2 linked regions of the Homo sapiens genome follow. The protein of the gene in region 1 interacts with the protein of each later gene in a pairwise test. Each region holds a gene or a part of one and is shown in the gene's direction. Other genes may lie near its edges.

Region 1 (5,383 bases):
CTTTCTCCAACTCCTTCTCTCTGCATGCACCTCAGAGCCAGTACCAAGAACTAGCAGTAGCCCTGGATTCAAGCTCCGCAATAATCAGTCAACTCACTGAAAACATCAATTCACTGGTAAGAGTCCAGTGGGGTCCCCTGATTACAGCTGGTCAATCCTGGACTCCAGTTTCCTCTTGGGGCCCTGAAGAAAGGGGCTAGGGGCCCCTGATGCCAAGGGCAAATGGGGAGCTGGGCACCCAGGTCTCACCTGGAGGGACCCCAGAGCACAGAACATGCAGCATGGCTCTTCTGCACTGCCCTCTTTGCTGACTCTCTCTTCTCCAGACACCCCTGCTCTAGTCCTTGCCACACATGCCCTGGGGTTGTCACCTCTCTGGGAAGCACTAGCCTGACTGGTTGTCAGAGGTCCATATTCCTGCCCTGCCTCAGTCCCTAATTTGCTTTTTGAGTCTGGACAAGCCATCTCTCCTCTTTATGCTCGTGTTTCTGGAGGAGGTAGAGAGTATCAAAGGTCTCGGTTAGCTCTGAAAGTCAGAGATTTAAAGGCCCCTAGAATGGAAAGCTCAGGGCGAAGGGCTCCTGTCTGTCCTTTGCTGTTTTATATCTCTGCTATGAAGAACTGTACCTGGCCTGTACATGCTCAGTAAATGTTTGTTGAATGAATGCACGTTTCTAAATCACAAACTGGCAGAAGGGGGGTGGGCCTTTCTCAAACTCTGTCTCTGGACGTTCACCAGCCCCTCCCTCCAGTACCCTTTTCCCCCTTTGCTTTGGGCAGGTTCGCACATCTAAGGAGGAGAAGAAGCATGAGATACATCTGGTACAGAAGCTTGGGAGGAGCTTGTTCAAACTCAAAAACCAGACGGGTAAGATGGGGCTGGCATGACCTGGCAGCTGGACTGGCATTAGAGGGCTGTGGGGGTGACTTAGAATGCCCCAGGGAGGTGGGTGGATGGAAGGGCTTTGAGGCAGAGGGAAAGAGGTCTGTGCCAGGGGAGGACAAGTCTTGTCATCTCCATGAGCCTCAGTGTCCCCATCAGTAAAGAGGGAGGAGTGCCCATTGTCAGCCACCCACAGTGCTCTCTATCTGAAAGTGACTTGGAAGATTGTCTACCATCCGGGTGTGAGGAGTCATTAGCAGTGAGGCCAAGTTTGGGAAGCCTGAGAGGAGGAGCTGTGCACCAAAGGGAGGATTTTTTTTTTTTTTTTTTGAGAATCCAGAGGCCCTTATTCTCTGCTTGCTTTCTCAGCTGAACCCCTGGCCCCACAGCCCCCAGCAGGGCCATCTAAGATGGAGCAGCTACAAGATGAGACCAACCACCTAAGGAAGGAGCTAGAGAGTGTGGGAAGACAGCTCCAGGCTGAGGTGGAAAACAATCAGATGTTGAGTCTCCTGAACAGGAGACAGGAGGAGAGGCTACGTGAACAGGAGGAGAGGCTACGTGAACAGGAGGAGAGGCTGTGTGAACAGGAGGAGAGGCTGTGTGAACAGGAGGAGAGGCTACGTGAACAGGAGGAGAGGCTGTGTGAACAGGAGAAGCTGCCAGGGCAGGAGAGGCTGCTGGAAGAGGTGGAGAAGCTGTTAGAACAGGAGAGGCGGCAGGAGGAGCAGGAGAGGCTGCTGGAGAGGGAGAGGCTGCTGGACGAGGTGGAGGAGCTCCTGGAGCAGGAGAGGCTTCGGCAACAGGATGAGAGGCTGTGGCAGCAGGAGACTCTGCGGGAGCTGGAGAGGCTGCGGGAGCTGGAGAGGATGCTGGAGCTGGGGTGGGAAGCCCTGTACGAGCAGCGGGCCGAGCCACGCAGCGGCTTCGAGGAGCTGGTGCGTTGCCCCACCTGGGGAGGCTGCCCTCTTCCCTAGCCCTCAAGGCCTTTGTTTCCCCACCTGTAAAATGGGGCATTGTAGCCTTCACATGAAATGGTACTTCTAAAGGCATCTGTGAGCCAGAGCCCTGCTCTGATGGCTGTGGGAGAGAGGGGATATTTTTCTAACCTGCCTCCACCCTTCCCGGTGCCATGGGAGGCAGACACTAAGTTCTGGGGTCTCCAGTTTTAGTGGGTGGCCACTGATTGCTTCTTTCTGTCCAGAACAACGAGAACAAGAGCACACTGCAGTTGGAGCAGCAAGTAAAGGAGCTGGAGAAGTCGGGTGAGCTGAAAGAGACTGTAACCTCCGACCCATCCAAGAAGATGTGGGAGGCGGGCACCAGCCTCTGGGGAGGGGAGGTGCCAGGCCACAGGCAGCTGCAGCCTGGGGACAGGTGACCCCAGCACCCTCCGGGGCAGTCCTATGACTGTTTCTTGCTTCCTGCCCTCTGACTTTTAGAGGTGGGTAGCCCTGGGGTCCTCCCAGGTCTGGACATCATCATCCCAGCTAGAGGCATGGAGCCCCCCAATCACAGAGGAAGAGACAGTGGTATAAGAGGCTCCTTATGTCGGGTGTGGTGGCTCATGCCTGCAATCCCAGCACTTTGGGAGGCTGAGGCAGGACAATCACTTGAGGTCAGGAGTTTGAGACCAACATGGCCAACATGGTGAAAGCTCATCTCTACTAAAATTAAAAATAATAATAATAATTAGCCAGGCCTGGTGGTGCATGCCTGTAATCCCAGCTACTCAGGAGGCTGAGACACGAGAATCACTTGAGCCCGGGAGATGAAGGTTGCAGTGAGCTGAGATTGCACCACTGCACTGCAGCCTGGGACACAGAGTGACACTCTCTCAAAACAAAACAAAACAGAAAAACAAAAAAGCCTCCTTAGATTCAAACTGGATTCCGGCCTCGGTTCCACTGGTCATAATTCAACTACTTTGCATCTCTAAGTCTCTGTTTCTTTAACTTCAAAAGGAAGTTAGCCTTTTCCTTGCAGAGGTGCTGAGGATTAAATGAGGTAATACGTGGAAACATTAGGCATGTAGCACACTTAGCAGATGGTGGTTGGCTCCGCCTGCTTTTCCACCAGTCTGTGGCCTACAGTTTACATGCTGGGAAAAAGGACGTGAGATTTGATGCTAGGGAAGGAGGCATGGGGTTCTAAGCAAGGGAGACAGTCTCTTAGGCCTGGAGCAAGGGGCCAGGGGCCTGGGCAGGCCACAGAGCCCCACAGTGCCCTCGCTACCCTATTAATGGGCCAGGAATCTGGAAGCCAGCCACCACATGTCCTCATGCCCAGGGTCTTCCGGCAGGTGGAGCTGAAGAGCCAAGAGGCTCCGAGTCTGCAGCAGCAGCCAGACCAGTAGCTGGAGCCCCAGTCCCACAAGGAGCTTGGATGTGCGGACAAGCAGGGTGGTGAGTAGAGCCCTCAGGCGGGGTGGGCAGGCAGGAGCAGGGGAGGCTCGCACTGTGCCCAGATTCCCACCCCCTCCCTCTCTCTGAAGATCTTAGTGAGCTGAGCCTCACTGATAGCATGGAGGCTGCACCGGGAGAGGACAGGGAGGGTTCTCCCCCATGACAACCCCACTGCACAGCAGATCCAGCAGCTGCTTCCTCTAATGCAGGACTCCCCAGGAGCACCCAGGCTTGAGTGGAGAAGCTGTTGGTACAGGAGAGGCGGCAGGAGGAGCAGGAGAGGCTGCATGCCATTCTTTTCGGGCTGCCGAGAACAGGGAGCTAAACATCACCATCATCTAAGAGCGGGTCAAGAAATTGAAAAAAAAAAACAAAACATTTAAGGGGTTAATATCCTACACAATTCATTTACTTCATTTGAATGTTAGAGCCACTTATGTTTGTGTTTCTAATTTATAGTTTAAATTTATTTGTGTTTCTAATTTATAGTTTAAATTTATTTGTTTCTAATTTATAGTTTAAATTTATTTGTGTTTCTAATTTATAGTTTAAATTTATTTTTGTTTCTAATTTATAATTTAAATTTATTTGTAAAAAGTTAAATGAGAGTGGGTCTTTCTCTCATGTTCACTCTGGCATCTTTTAGCATTTCTTTAATTTGATAATTATAGGACGTTAGCATGCATATCGAGTTTGCCCTTATGTGGTGGGAGTTCAAACACACAAAGACCCACTGTATGCACACAACTGTTCTTGCTGGTTTGGGATAGGCTGCCATGCTTTTTTAATGTTAGTACAGCCTGTATATTCATTACGGAATTCAGATAAAATTTCCTTATGTTCTGCTGTTATGTTTGATCGAATCCTAATCACAGTGAGCTCTTCATTAGCTCAATATGTGGTTTGCCCTCTGGAAACAGCCTTTCCCCCTTTTTCTGTGTATTGGGGATGGGAGTAATAACATTTTGGGGAGGTTTTTAAATCTCCCAGAAGAGGAAAGTGGCCTGCTTTGGCAGGTGTGTGCAGGATAGAATATGTTTCATTTGTTCCGGTGCCAAGAATGAGCGCTGTACTACGGTAGTTCCCTTAGGATTTGTATGTGCTCTAGGCTCATGAAGATACTGCCTCATGAGCTGTGGCAGTTGTACTCTTTTTTGATGACCTGAAAAGGGATTATTTCTGAGGAATGAAAGGCTCCCATCATGACTGTGGATGTGGAAAACCTTTTCTAGCTGAGAGCATTTATATCTACAATACATTTTAAAGTCAGAGTTCATGTTCCCTGTTTTAATCACATGACTACATGTCCCAGTACACAAAAGGGCACTGGTTGGCGTTCTCCTTAATGTATTTAGTAAAGATCAGAAGAAATCCTTTAAGAGTTTAAATGCCCCTGGAACAGGCATATACAGGCTCTAGTCAAGAATGAATTCGAGTGAAGGAAAGCTGTGTGACACCTGGCATTCCTCTGTGTTCATGGAGCTTATTTGAGGCTAGAAGATGGATTTTACCATCTAGACCTCTCTGGCTAATAGCTAGTCTTCAACCATCTGACATAGGAATTTACTTCTTTTCCTTGAATGGAGAACACTTTAAAAATAATAACAAACATTATTATAAACTAATATATGTGAGAGTACTTAGTTGAAACAAAAAGGAGTTTTAGTAGACAGTATTATACTACATTTGAAAATCAAGGAGCAGTTTATGCAACGTAAAACGTTTACAAACTGCAGCACAATCTACTGTTCGTGAATGTCAAAGTGTCATGAGGAAAGTGTCTATACAATCACAGAGTTATATTTCCTCACAAAGTTCTTTACAAAGAGTGAAATATGTTTTTATACCTCTCAGTTTCAGTTAGAGGCATATTTTGTGTAATATTTATGGCTTAAAATGGACTAAAGGTCCTGTTCTTGCCTTGTCTGAACTTGCCGCTTTTGCATTCTTTGAGTTCAGTTTAAAGACAGTTACTTTAAGCCCATTTTAAACCCTCAGGCTAGAAATCGTACCACTGTTAATTAGCCACATTATTTGGTCTAACAGTTTATCATTCTGAAACTGAGCTTACCTAATACATTGATAAATTATTTCA
Region 2 (3,172 bases), on another chromosome or scaffold:
ACCTGGACAGCATCATTGCTGAGGTCAAGGCCCAGTACGAGGATATAGCCCAGAAGAGCAAAGCTGAGGCCGAGTCCTTGTACCAGAGCAAGGTGAGTGGGCTGAAAGCCTAGCCAGTTTCCCTGAAATGGCTTGTCTTGCTATCCTGTGTTATCTCATGTATGTGTGCCTGTGCCATGCTGAGTTCTGCCTACATTTAACAAACGCTATCTACCATCTTTAGTATGAAGAGCTGCAGATCACTGCTGGCAGACATGGGGATAGTGTGAGAAATTCAAAGATAGAAATTTCTGAGCTGAATCGTGTGATCCAGAGACTTAGATCTGAAATCGACAATGTCAAGAAGCAGGTATGTGCTTTCTCCTTCTACCACTCAGCTGTATGGAATGGGGGTAACCCTCAGGTAAAGGGCGAGTGCTTTCCTAGTTTTGAATCTTGCAATTCATCCCAAGGCTACATTATTATCCCTGGTTCCTTTTGTGACTATGCTAGTTTCCAGAATGCAGCCATCATGCTGGGTTCTCTTTAGGGAAATCTGTGAGAATGGCCTAGTAGAGAAAGATGGGATGGTCAATGTGAGTGATCTAGCCTATGACCCAAAGTGGACTTAAGAGTTGGGGAGTGAGAGGAAGGGCAGCCAGGAGGTTTTAGAGTAGGTGTTTAGAAGAATGTCAAGTCTGTAAGGGTTGTAGGAGCCTTGACTCAGGGCCAAGAGAGGCTGTTGAGTTATCCCTAAGGTCTTTTAAGGAAGTCAACATGGTGATGTGTTATCTGGAGGTGGGTGTGAGATGACTTAAGGCCAAGTGGTTCTGTTGGACTCATTATTGGCCTCACTGGAGTGGGGAGACCAATTGGGATGAGGAGGCCTAGTGGGGAATGCATATTATGAGAGGGTGTCATATTCTTTTTCAGATCTCCAACTTGCAGCAGTCCATCAGTGATGCAGAGCAGCGTGGCGAGAATGCCCTCAAGGATGCCAAGAACAAGCTGAATGACCTGGAGGATGCCCTGCAGCAGGCCAAGGAAGACCTGGCCCGCCTGCTGCGCGACTACCAGGAGCTGATGAACACAAAGCTGGCCCTGGATCTGGAGATTGCCACCTACAGGACCCTCCTGGAGGGAGAAGAAAGCAGGTGAGGAAGGGACGCTGGGAGTCGAACCTCTTCTCATGGTCTTCCTTCCTTGCAAGCTGATTGTTGTTGAAGATGCAGCCATCTGATTGCAGCTTGTGCTGGGTATGGGGAAATGAAAAGTACACGGAGCAGGAGGAAGGACCTAGTTTTACTTTGGGAGCTGGAGTCCCAAGCTGTTTATTTTTTTCTTCTAGGGCTGTAACATATCTAGAAAGAGCTTTGAGGTGGAGCAAATTATTCTTTATCTGGGCTGCCTCAGATGGCAGCTGGCCTAAAGTCGGCATCTTTAGAGGGGGCCTTCATTGGCTGCAAGGCTCTTGTCTCGTTTATATGGGAATTTCTCCGTGTTTGTACTCTTGCTGAGAAAAAATGACAGGTCTGGGAGGCCAGAGGGGATTGGATTAAGTTTCAGATTAAGTGCATTGGAGAAGACCCAGATGGGGAAAGTCTTCAAGGTGGTGGAGCGGGGAATGGGGAAGCGGTTTGGGAAGCTGGAGTGTCCTGAGGAATTTTCTTATTTTCTCCTACAGGATGTCTGGAGAATGTGCCCCGAACGTGAGTGTGTGTAAGTACAAGTCGATTTCTCAGGGGCATGTGCAGGCTTTGTTGGGCTGGAAACGGAGTTGAGGTTGAAAATAACTGAGCTTCCTCTTGCAGCTGTGAGCACAAGCCACACCACCATCAGTGGAGGTGGCAGCCGAGGAGGTGGCGGCGGTGGCTACGGCTCTGGAGGTAGCAGCTATGGCTCCGGAGGTGGTAGCTATGGTTCTGGAGGTGGCGGCGGCGGCGGCCGTGGCAGCTATGGCTCCGGAGGTAGCAGCTACGGCTCCGGAGGTGGCAGCTATGGCTCTGGAGGTGGCGGCGGCGGCCATGGCAGCTACGGCTCCGGAAGCAGCAGTGGGGGCTACAGAGGTGGCTCTGGAGGCGGCGGCGGCGGCAGCTCTGGCGGCCGGGGCTCTGGCGGCGGGAGCTCTGGAGGCTCCATAGGAGGCCGGGGATCCAGCTCTGGGGGTGTCAAGTCCTCTGGTGGCAGTTCCAGCGTGAAGTTTGTTTCTACCACTTATTCCGGAGTAACCAGATAAAGAGATGCCCTCTGTTTCATTAGCTCTAGTTCTCCCCCAGCATCACTAACAAATATGCTTGGCAAGACCGAGGTCGATTTGTCCCAGCCTTACCGGAGAAAAGAGCTATGGTTAGTTACACTAGCTCATCCTATTCCCCCAGCTCTTTCTTTTCTGCTGTTTCCCAATGAAGTTTTCAGATCAGTGGCAATCTCAGTCCCCTGGCTATGACCCTGCTTTGTTCTTTCCCTGAGAAACAGTTCAGCAGTGACCACCACCCACATGACATTTCAAAGCACCTCCTTAAGCCAGCCAGAGTAGGACCAGTTAGACCCAGGGTGTGGACAGCTCCTTAGCATCTTATCTCTGTGCTGTTTTGGTTTTGTACATAAGGTGTAAGCAAGTTGTTTTTCTTTTGTGGAGAGGTCTTAAACTCCCCATTTCCTTGTTTTGCTGCAATAAACTGCATTTGAAATTCTCCATGTCTCGATCGCCCTTGTTTACGGCACTGTCTAACCTGGATGGGTGTTTTGTGAGGTAAAAGAAGACACTAGAGCCACATGGCATATGGGAAAGTCATGCACACAAACATGAGAAAAATGCAGAGGCCAACCAGGCAACATTTCACCAGACTGGAATCACAGAGAGAGCAAGCACTTTCCCAGATGGTGGGGATGTCATGGAGAAATGGAGAGACCGGGTGACAGGTTTTGTTCATTTGAGAAGGCTTTCTTGAAAAGGGCAGTGAGCAAGCAGGTTGGGAGGAAGAGGTGTGGCATTGAGAAGAAGGGAAAGTATTGCATGAAAAAGTAATTCTTCACGTGGAACAGCCAGTAAGGAGGGGCATGAGTAATATAGGGTCAGCAGTTACTGGAGCCAGAATACAGACTTTGGCCTGGGGAGTTCAAGAACTAAGAGTGGTAATAGAGAGTTGGATATTCCATTTCCCTTCTCTTTTTGTGCCACCACCCAAAGCTC

What was found. Proteins that work in one complex are often made in the same cells at the same time.
Region 2: the proteins of GOLGA6L9 (region 1) and KRT1 interact in binary tests that used the Homo sapiens proteins (3 or more experiments, as listed by UniProt).

What each region holds. Positions count from the first base shown.
Region 1 is NC_000015.10:82,432,782-82,438,164, forward strand, and holds part of GOLGA6L9 (golgin subfamily A member 6-like protein 9), read left to right. Parts: exon of another isoform or gene 1-35; coding exon 36-116; intron 117-780; coding exon 781-868; intron 869-1,252; coding exon 1,253-1,821; intron 1,822-2,087; coding exon 2,088-2,148; intron 2,149-3,185; coding exon 3,186-3,288; intron 3,289-3,497; coding exon 3,498-3,630; 3' UTR 3,631-5,383.
Region 2 is NC_000012.12:52,674,236-52,677,407, reverse strand, and holds the end of KRT1 (keratin, type II cytoskeletal 1), read left to right. Parts: coding exon 1-92; intron 93-223; coding exon 224-349; intron 350-912; coding exon 913-1,133; intron 1,134-1,663; coding exon 1,664-1,698; intron 1,699-1,790; coding exon 1,791-2,215; 3' UTR 2,216-2,672; downstream 2,673-3,172. UniProt on the Homo sapiens protein: May regulate the activity of kinases such as PKC and SRC via binding to integrin beta-1 (ITB1) and the receptor of activated protein C kinase 1 (RACK1). In complex with C1QBP is a high affinity receptor for kininogen-1/HMWK.